3 separate regions of the Homo sapiens genome follow, and all the other regions are reported to be linked to region 1. The links are microRNA targets in miRTarBase. Many come from high-throughput screens and were not tested one by one. Region 1 holds a microRNA gene; each other region holds the end of a gene's coding sequence. Distances are between the middles of the regions.
Evidence for each region. Region 1 holds the annotated microRNA hsa-miR-7704 (CGGGGUCGGCGGCGACGUG, at 1,809-1,827, shown strand). A microRNA usually pairs through its seed, bases 2 to 8, with sites in the 3' UTR of a target mRNA and lowers its output. Matches are read on the target gene's strand: a 7mer-m8 pairs with bases 2 to 8, a 7mer-A1 pairs with bases 2 to 7 and ends in A, and an 8mer does both.

Region 1 (4,094 bases):
TCTACTGGCTCCCCTCAACCTGGGGACATCCCTCCCCCATCCTGCAGCAACTTCGGGTCCATCAGTAGTCCACATTTTGGTAGGGCTTTGTTTATTCACAAGTCCACAACCCTGGAAGGAACTGGCTCCCTGGGCTGTGATGGCGCCTATTCTAAAGACTTCCTCAGAGTGGAAATTTAGGCAACAACAGCTCAATCGCTCTTTTATGACAAGTCAATCAGTAAAACAATGATAAAACCTCGGTTACCATAACTTAGAGGCTGTAATAGATTAACTTTTCAAGGGCACTTGATATAAGCTCTGAGTAGACTCTTTAGAGTCTTTATTCACACAGGGTTTTAGGAAACCACCCTCTTTCATAACTACTGTGTGTAAATAACCTCTATTTATCTAATTTGTAATTTTCCTACAGTCCCCTCAAAAGGGAACATTAAAAGAAATACTAAAGGAAGTTGGAAAGTTTGTCAATGTAAAGCTGGTCTTTGTAACCTTTCTACTCTTCATTTCCTGTGGCAATTGCACTTTTATTTCCCGTCTCTCTACACTCAGTAAACAAAACCATATTATCAAGGGAAAGACGTGAGCCCATTAACATTGTGAGCCCTCAGATTTCACTCACAAGAGACGATGCAGCACTTATCTGATGGAGCAGAAGCTCTAATTGCTTCGAGGTACAAGTCCATCTAAACCTCTGAGATCTCACCCGTCCCCGGTAAGCCCTTGCGCCCTCCAGACAAGCTCCTCAGTGAAAGCAAGCGCCGCACCGGTGCCTGTGCCAGTCTCCCAGAAAGGAGCATAAGGAGTGTTCCACCACCACTCTGGATTCTTTATTCCAACAACCCAGCCGGAGGGGAAAATCTGCTAAACCACCCCACAAGGCAGAAACTTTATCAAAATCTGGCACTACAACACTGGCCCTCATCACGCCGCCACAAATTGCGAGGGATAGAAGAAAGCTGCAAAGTCACGTTAAAAGGAAGCCTAGTCAAAAAGTGAAAATTTTGTCCCGCCCTAGGCACACAGCACTCACAGCATAAGATGTAGTTCCATGAGTCCTAGGAAAGGGGGAAGAAAGGAAAAAACCAAACATCTGCTCTAGGTTTAGAAGAGGGATAACATCAGCGCCAAGCAAACCGAAAGCGCAGAGGACTCAGAAGAGGGGAAGAGGAATAACTTTATCTGTCCTGGAGGTGGGCGAAGAGCAGTCTCCACCGGCCGCGCGTCACGCTCCCATTTAACCTTTTCCATGCCGCGACGCCCACACTCCGCCCTCGAGGGACTAGCCCCCCCCACGATCCAGAGCAGAAGCGGCTCGCCCCGCTGCATCCACGGGCCCTCACCCAAGCGTCCAGTCCTGCCTTTCTCCCCCCACCTCGCCCAATACCTGTCCGAGAGCAGGCGTTCTGCCCTCTCGCCCCGCCCTTGCCCAGGCAGCCCCCGGTCGCGACGGCTCTCCTCGGGGCTCGGGGGCGCTGGGCGGCGGCCCTGGGCTGCTTTGGCTAACTTGGCTGCGGGGCAGGCGCGAGGAGCGGCGCGCCGACCGGGCCGAGCGGAGAGGCCGCCCATTGGCCGGCCAGCGCCACGTGGCCGCCCCCGCCGGTATATTAGGCCACTATTTACCTCCGGCTCACTCGCCATGGGTTGGAGAGGGCAGCTCGGGTAGAGAGGGCTGGCGGAGCGGCGCAGACGGCGGCAGTCCTGCTCAGCCTCTGCCCGGCTCCGTACTCCGGCCCCGGCCTGCGCCCTCAGAAAGGTGGGGCCCGAACCATGAGCTCCTACCTGGAGTACGTGTCATGCAGCAGCAGCGGCGGGGTCGGCGGCGACGTGCTCAGCTTGGCACCCAAGTTCTGCCGCTCCGACGCCCGGCCCGTGGCTCTGCAGCCCGCCTTCCCTCTGGGCAACGGCGACGGCGCCTTCGTCAGCTGTCTGCCCCTGGCCGCCGCCCGACCCTCGCCTTCGCCCCCGGCCGCCCCCGCGCGGCCGTCCGTACCGCCTCCGGCCGCGCCCCAGTACGCGCAGTGCACCCTGGAGGGGGCCTACGAACCTGGTGCCGCACCTGCCGCGGCAGCTGGGGGCGCGGACTACGGCTTCCTGGGGTCCGGGCCGGCGTACGACTTCCCGGGCGTGCTGGGGCGGGCGGCCGACGACGGCGGGTCTCACGTCCACTACGCCACCTCGGCCGTCTTCTCGGGCGGCGGCTCTTTCCTCCTCAGCGGCCAGGTGGATTACGCGGCCTTCGGCGAACCCGGCCCTTTTCCGGCTTGTCTCAAAGCGTCAGCCGACGGCCACCCTGGTGCTTTCCAGACCGCATCCCCGGCCCCAGGCACCTACCCCAAGTCCGTCTCTCCCGCCTCCGGCCTCCCTGCCGCCTTCAGCACGTTCGAGTGGATGAAAGTGAAGAGGAATGCCTCTAAGAAAGGTAAGTCCGCGGGCCTTGGATGGGGCCACCTGGGGTTGGGGACGGAGCCTCCCCCGCGGAAATGCGCTGGGAGCGTGGTGTCGCTGCCTTTCCAGACAGCGGTTTGGGTTTTGTGGAGGAGACGCGTTCCCGGGCGAATTCCATGGAGTCTGCCTCGAGTACAGATTCGGAAAATGTGCCAGGCATTGAGAAAATTTCAGGAAGGAGCTCTCCGTGGAACTTCTCCTGGTACAAATTCTGTTCCTAGGGACCCAGGAGGGCTGCGCTGGGACTTTGATTCTAACTAGCTCCACTGCTCACCCACATTCTGTCCCCGGCCTCAGGCCTGGCTGACGCCCTGTCTTTACGTTGCAGGCAAACTCGCCGAGTATGGGGCCGCTAGCCCCTCCAGCGCGATCCGCACGAATTTCAGCACCAAGCAACTGACAGAACTGGAAAAAGAGTTTCATTTCAATAAGTACTTAACTCGAGCCCGGCGCATCGAGATAGCCAACTGCTTGCACCTGAATGACACGCAAGTCAAAATCTGGTTCCAGAACCGCAGGATGAAACAGAAGAAAAGGGAACGAGAAGGGCTTCTGGCCACGGCCATTCCTGTGGCTCCCCTCCAACTTCCCCTCTCTGGAACAACCCCCACTAAGTTTATCAAGAACCCCGGCAGCCCTTCTCAGTCCCAAGAGCCTTCGTGAGGCCGGTACTTGGGGCCGAAAAACTGTGGCCTGCAGAAGTCCCAGGCGACCCCCATCCCTATCTAGACTTAGGAGCTCAGTTTGGGATGGAGGTGGGAGAACAAAAATGAATAGGGATTTCACTTGGGAAATGAAGTACTTTAGTTGGCTTCCGAGTTCCAGACTATATGTCCAGATATTAATTGACTGTCTTGTAAGCCACTTGTTTGGTTATGATTTGTGTCTTATCAGGGAAAAGGTGCCCAGCTGCCAGCCCAGCTCCGCTGCTATCTTTGCCTCACTTAGTCATGTGCAATTCGCGTTGCAGAGTGGCAGACCATTAGTTGCTGAGTTCTGTCAGCACTCTGATGTGCTCAGAAGAGCACCTGCCCAAAGTTTTTCTGGTTTTAATTTAAAGGACAAGGCTACATATATTCAGCTTTTTGAGATGACCAAAGCTAGTTAGGGTCTCCTTGATGTAGCTAAGCTGCTTCAGTGATCTTCACATTTGCACTCCAGTTTTTTTTTCTTTAAAAAAGCGGTTTCTACCTCTCTATGTGCCTGAGTGATGATACAATCGCTGTTTAGTTACTAGATGAACAAATCCACAGAATGGGTAAAGAGTAGAATCTGAACTATATCTTGACAAATATTATTCAAACTTGAATGTAAATATATACAGTATGTATATTTTTTAAAAAGATTTGCTTGCAATGACCTTATAAGTGACATTTAATGTCATAGCATGTAAAGGGTTTTTTTTGTAATAAAAATTATAGAATCTGCTGCTCTCTGCTTTTCTTACACTCTTTAATAATGATTCTCTTTCTTTAAAGTTGATTCAGTTTCCTGTATTTGAATTTTCTTGATTCTGCTATGAGAATTTGTTTATGTTGATAACTTTTTTTTTTTTTTGACACGGAGTCTTGCTCTGTTGCCCAGGCTGGAGTGCAGTGGCACAATTCTGGCTCACCACAACCTCTGCCTCCCAGGTTCAAGTGATTCTC
Region 2 (4,094 bases), not on the chromosome of region 1:
TAATGGACTCCTGAGAGGGGGCCTTGGCGTTTCCCCCGTTACCCAGCAAGTTCCACGGAGGACCAGGGACATTTTAAACCATTGGGCCTATGGCATCGTGTCCTTTTGGGAACATCTGCTGTGAGGCAGGTCACATGAAGGTGGCCTCTGAGGGAGACAGGAGCAAAGATGAGGGAGGATGCAGCATAGGTGGGGCCTGGATCTGCAGCTGAGTTGGGAGCAGAAGGAACAGCCAGTGCGGAGGCCACCCTCTTGTGGAGGCCTGGGGGTCCCTGTAGGTTGCCCGACCCACTGTGACCCTGAGCCTCTTCCCACAGACCATCAAGTGCCTGCTGATCCACCCTAACCCCGAGTCTGCACTCAACGAGGAGGCGGGCCGCCTGCTCTTGGAGAACTACGAGGAGTATGCGGCTCGGGCCCGTCTGCTCACAGAGATCCACGGGGGCGCCGGCGGGCCCAGCGGCAGGGCCGAAGCCGGTCGGGCCCTGGCCAGTGGCACTGAAGCTTCCTCCACCGACCCTGGGGCCCCAGGGGGCCCGGGAGGGGCTGAGGGTCCCATGGCCAAGAAGCATGCTGGCGAGCGCGATAAGAAGCTGGCGGCCAAGAAAAAGACGGACAAGAAGCGGGCGCTGCGGCGGCTGTAGTGGGCTCTCTTCCTCCTTCCACCGTGACCCCAACCTCTCCTGTCCCCTCCCTCCAACTCTGTCTCTAAGTTATTTAAATTATGGCTGGGGTCGGGGAGGGTACAGGGGGCACTGGGACCTGGATTTGTTTTTCTAAATAAAGTTGGAAAAGCAGCTTCTGTGTCTCACAGATGCCCCAGGACCGCTGCATGGTGCCATGTGGCTCTGGGAGTTTGGCTCCCCTGCACAGGCCCTGGGTCCTTGTAAAGCCTCATGGACTGCAGCAGTGGGTCCATCTAGCTCACCAGCCTTGCTGTTTGAGGTTTGGGTCCACCTCTTTGTTCTGTGGAGGTAGAGCGGTCACAACCCCTCTTTGGAGTCAGATTTCCAATCTAAAATGGGGCGAGGACCTGGAGCTGCTCCTGGTGGCCTGAGCGGCACTGCCCTATACTTCTCCCTCTAGAATAATGGCCACGTTGGTGTGGCAGTGGTGTTCCTGCTCAGGACGGCCAGGTGCCAGCAGTCTGGCATGAGGCTCGCCTCGTCTGTCTGGTTCTGGACTGGGCCAAGGTTCGGTCCCCTTGAATCATCTGATCCTGCTTTGTGCTAAAGATTGGTTTTTCCCTTGTGGGCAGCAAAGCCTGTTCCCACATGTATTTCTGCACAACAGATCACAAAGCCAGCGGCTTAAAACAACACCCACTTCAGACTTTGTGTTGGAAGTCTGGACACGGCTGAGCTAGTCTCTGCTCAGTGCTTTGCAGGCTAAAATTGAGGTATTGGTTGTTGGTGTTCCTTAGTCTGGGTCCTCTTCCATGCTCATGGTTGTTGGCTGATTTCAGTCCTCGTAGAACTAGGGTCTTAGCTCCAAGAAGCTGCCCCTCCTTGGGCCCTGGCAGGTCTGATTTAAGGGCCCATTCCCTTTGAGGTGCTCACCGGATTAGGTCAGGCCCATCCAGATACTTAAGTGATAATGACTAAATCACAGGGGTAAGATCCCAGCTTAGTCTTAGTTTCTGCCCTCAAGGGGAAGGGATTAACCTGGGTGTGCACACCAGGGGGTGGGGAAACTTCCCATTCTATTAATGCGTTTAGGTTATTTAGACCAATGTCTCATTAATTTTAAAAAAATTAAAAATAGGCCAGGCGCAATGGCTCACGCCTGTAATCCCAACTTTAGGAGGTGAAAGGATCACTTGAGGCCAGGAGTTAAAGACGAACGTGGGCAACACAGTGAGATCCCATCTCTACAAAAAGTAAAATACATTTACAATAAAAATCTACAAGTTCTGACCCATAGGAGAGTGGAAAACTCAAAGGCTGCTTTTGTCCTGAAAGAATTTGCCTATTCTAATAAAACAGCTGAGGTTGAAACGGCTCAGCCTCTGAAAGGGGTCTGACCCTTCCTTGAGCCCTTGCCTCCAGTGACAATCTCCCAAGCTAAGGGAGAAAAGGAACCAAAAGTCTGCACTCCTCTCTACCTCTAGCAGTGCAGGGAGCGAAGGAAAGACAAGGGAAGAAACCCTTCAGATTTTCAGATCAAATTCACATCACTGGCCATCCAAGAAATCTTAAGCTCTGCGTTTATCGTCAACCATTTCTGCATGAGGGAAGCAAACAGTCCTTGCTGAAGGAAGGTGCCTGCATCCTGGGCCTCGGAACCCACTGAAATAATTTAGCGAAGTGCATAATAAAAATAATATTTGCCCTTAGCCCTGACAGAGTTCCTCAATCCCTTGGAATCTCCTGGGTATTAATAGGAGCAGTCTTTGTCCTAATGAAGCCATCTGTGATGGGCCCCTGCGTAGCTTCAGGAAGGGGGTTGGTCACTAGAAATACCAAGACCGAATTAGACAGTTGGGAATTTCAGCCCCACCCATACCTACCAACCTCTGGGAAGAGAGGGGCTGAAGGTTGAGGTCAATGACCAATGGTCAATGATTTGTCTAATATGCCCATGTAATGAAACCTCCGTTAAAACACTAAACAAGGTTGGGTGGGGTGGCTCACGCCTGTAATCCTAGCACTTTGGGAGGCCAAGGCGGGCAGGTCACCTGAGGTCAGGAGTTCAAGACCAGCCTGGCCAACATGGTGAAACCCTGTCTCTACTAAAAATACAAAAATTAGCTGGACGTGGTGGTGCATGTCTGTAATCCCAGCTACTTGGAAGGCTGAGGCAGGAGAATCTCTTGAACCTGGGACACAGAGGTTTCAGTGAGCTGAGATCCTGCCACTGCACTCCAGCCTGGGTGACAGAGCGAGACTCTGTCTCAAAGAAAAGAAAAGAAAAGAAAAGAAAAAAATTAGCCAGGCATGGTAGTGTGCGCCTGTAATCTCAGCTCTTCGGAGGCGGAAGTGTGAGGGTCACTTGAGATGGGCAGGTTGACGCTGCAGTGAGCTATGATCGTACCACTGCACTCCAGCCTGGGTGAGAGAGGGAGACCCTTCCTCAAAACAAACCGGGCACGGTGGTTCACCTGTAATCCCAGCATTTTGGGAGGCCAAGGCTGGTGGACCACTTCACGTTGGGAGTTCAAGAGCAGCCTGCCCAACGTGGCGAAACCTCATCTCAACTAAAAATATAAAAATCAGCCAGGCATTGTGGTGCATGCCCATAGCCTCAGCTATTCAGGAGGCTGAGGCAGGAGAATTGCTTCAACCCAGGAGGCAGAGACTGCAGTGAGCCGAGATTGCACCACCGCACTCCAGTCTGGGCAACAGAGTGAGACTCTGTCTCAACACCCCCGCCACTCCCCTCAACACACGCAACAAAATGTATAAAGAGTTCCTACAAACGAATAAGAAAAAAACATGAAAAATTGGCAAAAACACTTGAACAAGCACTTCACAACACAGGAAATCCAAATGGTTACTCAACACATGTAAAGGTACTCAACATCATTAGTAACTGGAAAAATGCAAATGTAAACCAAGATTGATGCCATTATACTCCTAGAAAAACAACAATTAAATCTGAGAATACCAAGTGTTGGCAAGGTGGCGGAGCACTAGGAACTCCTATAGACTCCAGTTGGAACAGTGAGATGGTAAAGCCCATTTTGAAACTTTGTAGTCAAGTCAAAAGAACTCAACTTATTACTCAACAACCTTTTTGGTTTCGGTTTGGTTTTCATTTACATCGAGGTTCCCTTTGTTTCTATTTCTTCACAACCATCCATGCCGGGGTAACTCCTTCCTGCGTCTCAAGCCCAAATCCCACTCTAGAAATTCACATTCCCATTTCTTTCTTTTTGTTTTTTTGAGACAGAGTTTCGCTGTGTCACCCAGCCTGGGGTGCAATGGCACAATCTCAGCTCATTGCAACCTCTGCCTCACAGGTTTCAAGCGATTTCATGCCTCAGACTCCCGAGTAGCTGGGATTACAGGCGTGTGCCACCAAGCTGGGCTAATTTTTGTATTTTTAGTAGAGACAGGGTTTCACCATGTTGGCCAGGCTGGTCTTGAACTCCT
Region 3 (4,094 bases), 150 Mb from region 1:
GATTGAATATCAGTGATCCAGGCTCCGATTCCCCCAGCTGCACTGAATGAGATTGATGGAATCTTTCTTTTTAGGAGTGGAAGTATTATCCACTTCATGGGAGGAGCAACGAGCATCTCATGAAACTCTGTTCTGTACGAAGCCCTTGCATCAAGTGTTTGCCTCATTTACAAGAAAAGGAGAAAAGTTGGATATGAGTCTGGTCTCCTAATAGATTGTTTTCACTGCACTGGGAGCACATCAGAGGTAAGTAACCAGTACTGAAGACAGTACCAGGTGGGTAGTACTGTCTGATGAAGGGTACATCACCCTTCTGATGAAAACAGACACCTACCTGTTCATCTGGATGGAAGAGCAGGTTTGAGTATAGACACTGGCATTTTTGAACAATTCCCATGATCACCTGGTCCCTTCTTAAAATGCTCAAGATGTTTTTTAAAGGTATTAGTTGATCATACATTTTAGTTGAAAATCATTTGTGGGGCAATAAAAGCCATTTTTTGAAAAAGGTGTATCACTCAAGAAGTACTTATGGAAAAATATCAAATTATTGAGGGCATTAACTCTGGGAAAGACCAGGCAATTAAGTTGTCACAGTAACTGCTACTAATTTAATGCCAGGAATAGAGATGCCAAAAATCCTAAAATTTTCAGAAAGGGCTCTCACAGAAATGTAGCACTCCACTCAAACTGCAATAGCTTGATTCTGTTGAGAAACACTGATCTAAATAAATGGAAAAATAACCCACATTCACTAATGAAGATAATAAGGAAGACCCAATATTTTTTTTTTTTTAAAAGGAAAGTATTTTTAGCTTTTATGAAAGCTTTAAGTAATTTTTCCTCATTTTCCTGTTTGAAACTTTTGAAAAGGAAGTTCTTCAGTGTTTGTTTGGTTAGGCGCAGTGTATTCTAGGCCACTGCTTTATAAATATGGTGTGAGAAAGCAGTAGGATAAAATAATCAGAGTTCAGTGTGTCTCATATTTTGTTTCCTAAAAGTTTAGTAGAGCTGTGAATGTACTAGGAAGTCCCCTCTGAAAAAGCACAGTTAGTTAGTTAGAAATCTGCCCATTAACTCAGGGGGACTCAGGCGCCCCCCGGGTCTTCCCTCTCCTGCAGGCTCTCCGGTTAGTGTCCTGATTTGCCGTAACCACGGGCCTCTGACCTGCTGGCACCTCTGGTTCCTTGGCGTGTGGGTCACTCACAGATATGAAAACCTGTGTCTGGCTGACCAGGTTCTCCTGTAGCCCTCCCTTGCCCAGGCACAGATAGGAGTCATGACTGGCCCAAGGCCACGTTCAGACTTAACCCTGCAATGGCCACGAAGTAACCTCCGTGTGGGAGAGCTCCAGGAACAGTGCAGGGGATTAAAGCCAGCTTGGAGTACCCTTTAGAAGAAAGTTTAAGAATAAAAGAGACAGGGCCAGGCAGCAGGCGTTCCGGGGTACAGTGAGCTATGATGAGACCTTCAAGCTCTTGCCTTCCAGGCCTGTGGTGGGGACCAGTGGCATGAGTCAGCAAAGTACCAGCACTCCTCAGATAAGTGATATTAACAGAATTTCCACAATCACTTTCAAGTTGAATAAAGCTTTTAATAAAACAGTCTTGTTCTTTATCAATACCTGTAAATTCTCTTAAAGCAGTAGCAAAGGCGACTGTAGCAAGAGCTCAAAAGGCAAGGCAATATCGGAAAGTGTATTTAACAGAAGATTAAAAATATAAATGTAGAAGATCTGTTTATATATTTTTCTTTCAGAAATAAATCCCCCCTCCCCTGCCAGGTGAAAGGAAATATTGCACTTTCTGTTCTCATGACTAAGGGGACAGGAGTTCCAGAAGAACCTTTCAAGATGATCAGGAACACCAGGACGAGGGCCGTCTCACCTCACTCGGACCACATGGAGACCTCCCTTCAAAATGGGAGCCATGTCCTGCCCCACCAAGCCCTGTCTGAAGTGGAGCTTCCCCGCCTGTGCTCCCTCCACAGTCCCGGAAAGCCCAGCGGCAAAGGCAGCTTTGTCCCAGCTCTGCCACCCTCCTGCTCACAGTGGTCAGGGCCCCTCAGGGGCAAGGACGGCAGGGATTGGAACGAGGGCTCTGGAAGGACTGTTCAGCCCTATGCCTAAGACCCCTATGCTGGGGACACTACAGGCACACACAGGAATAGCAGGGCCACCCTCAGAGCTCACACATCCACGAACAAATGAAGGCTGAGGAGGTTTCTAAACCTAAAGTCCATGAGTGTGCACTTCAATCCAGGAAGGTCGGGACTTCCTTCAGTTTCAAAAAATAAATTCTCCCTTCCGGTTTGGACTGTTGCAGGCTCGAGGCCATTCAGGAGTTGTCCACCACCTGGTGGGGCAGTGTGACAGAGGGGCCATTGGGGAAGGTGGCTAGCTTATCCCGCCCCTTCAAGAAGAAGGTCAGCAGCTCCCCCTTCCCCTTCACAAAGATGGGGCCTCGCCTCACAAAGCGGAAGCCGTACTCTCGGAGGATGACTTGGGTTTCTTCTACCACCTGGAGAGGGAGGGGGAGCAAGAACGTGGCGTTACGGGGGGAGCCTAGACTGAGGGCGGGTGGGGGCTTTGGGTGGTTGGAGCCGAGCACTGATCCATGGGTCCCAAGCAGTACGGGACACTCCCCAAACCTCCCAGGGCCAAGCCCTTCCACCCGTGGCGAGCAGCGGGTGGGAAGGAGAACCCTGGAGTGACTGGCTGGGGGCCTCCTCTCATCCAGAGACTTCTCTCCTAGGATGGCCATGGTCACCTGGGTGGCAGCACTGTTACCTGGAAACTGCCACTGCCTGCTCTTCTGTCCCTTTGCCCCTTTCGTGGAGCTTTTCTGCCAGACGCCACTGAGACAGATCACAAGGTATTAGAAGGTTCATACCCAAAGGTAGGCCATATGCATCTAGAACTTCAGCCCAGATTTTGTGGATGGGTGGAAGTGTTTCTTCCTGTGCTGAGGCTAGCTATTGCAGAGATTCTTTTCCACTTGCCCCACGTCTCTGCCTCTGGACTTACTGTTCAGGGCCAGGGTGGGAGGCAGGGGCACGTGGGAAAGCACTGTTCCGGTTTTGTTCTCATGCCGAGTCTGAGCACGTGCCAGCTGTGCCACTGGACATACCTGAATGTTGCCCATGACCCCCGTGGACTCCATCCTGCTGGCTACATTGACTGTATTGCCCCAGATGTCGTAGTGTGGTTTCCGGGCTCCGATGACCCCAGCCAGAACCCCGCCTTTGTTCATGCCTAGGGTAGAGGCATAAAGTTCAGCACAGCCACAGGCCACACCTTGTTATGGGCCTCAGAAGCCATCTCCTCTCCAGACCTGTACCACAAAGCTCCTAATGTAACACATCATTGTCCTCATTCAACTTGGCTGTATGCTATTGGAGGGTGGAAATCACATCTCCTGTTTATCCGTGTGCTTGTTAGGTGTCAGCCGCCACCCCCCCCCCATATGCAGATTTACTCGGCATGGTAGTGGCCAGCTTCTAACACAGCTGGTATTTCAAGTCTCCTGGGACCTCACTCAGGAATGATACCCCCTCAGTAGAAGCAGCAGGTGATCTTAACTCCTTTCAAAGAGCAGGCCTGTCTGGGAAGCCATGTCCTCAGCAGGCACAGCAACCCCTCTGGAAATGGATCACAAACTCACTTCTCAGCCAGGCAGGCCAAGCTTCTATTGTAACAGTAGGCACAGTATAGTCGGATCATCACATCAGCTGGGTTTTTGGTTTAGTCATCTAGAGTCGTCTGGACTAAAGGTCTTTCAGGTCTCCTTGCCCTGTGAGTGCGTGAACCTCCCCACCCGAATTGCCTCAGTTGTCCTGAGCCTCATGTCTCTCCTGGTGGTGGGCCAGGCCCCTGCATGGGAAGGGAGCCTGCTGCGGGGCAGGCCAGCTGGGGGTGCTCACCTATGCGCAGCATGAAGTTATTGAAGGACTGGTTGTTGATGTTGGTGAGCGTATCCTTCATGGCCAGCGCGAAGTCGGCCAGGTCAGCCAGGTGCTGCCAGCGCTCTCTCTCGGACTTGTCTTCCTGTGCCAGGGGACCGTGGAGAAAGTGTCAGGGGCCGCTCACTGCAGCA

Region 2: miRTarBase lists UBE2S as a target of hsa-miR-7704. Seed matches in the 3' UTR shown: 7mer-A1 at 670-676.
Region 3: the mRNA of CENPO is a reported target of hsa-miR-7704. Seed matches in the 3' UTR shown: 7mer-A1 at 3,222-3,228.

What each region holds. Positions count from the first base shown.
Region 1 is chr2:176,187,035-176,191,128 of GRCh38, forward strand. MIR7704 (microRNA 7704) reads left to right here and starts at 1,809; the gene lies at 1,809-1,867. HOXD1 (homeobox D1) reads left to right here and starts at 1,634. Exons shown (of 2, transcript NM_024501.3): 1 at 1,634-2,419; 2 at 2,774-3,873. The coding sequence starts at 1,768. The coding sequence ends at 3,108. It overlaps HAGLR (HOXD antisense growth-associated long non-coding RNA), which reads right to left and starts at 1,924. Exons shown (of 3, transcript NR_033979.2): 1 at 1,780-1,924.
Region 2 is chr19:55,397,986-55,402,079 of GRCh38, reverse strand. It overlaps UBE2S (ubiquitin conjugating enzyme E2 S), which reads left to right. Exons shown (of 4, transcript NM_014501.3): 4 at 318-2,335. The coding sequence ends at 644. It also overlaps a transcript of RPL28 not described here. Among named protein-coding and RNA genes, the nearest start is that of SNORD157, 2.6 kb to the left of the region's middle. RefSeq lists an enhancer at 3,608-3,707.
Region 3 is chr2:24,817,596-24,821,689 of GRCh38, forward strand. It overlaps CENPO (centromere protein O), which reads left to right. Exons shown (of 8, transcript NM_001322101.2): 7 at 75-246; 8 at 1,759-4,094. The coding sequence ends at 211. ADCY3 (adenylate cyclase 3) reads right to left here. Exons shown (of 22, transcript NM_004036.5): 20 at 3,922-4,045; 21 at 3,129-3,253; 22 at 1,574-2,519. The coding sequence ends at 2,337. Among named protein-coding and RNA genes, the nearest start is that of CENPO, 26 kb to the left of the region's middle.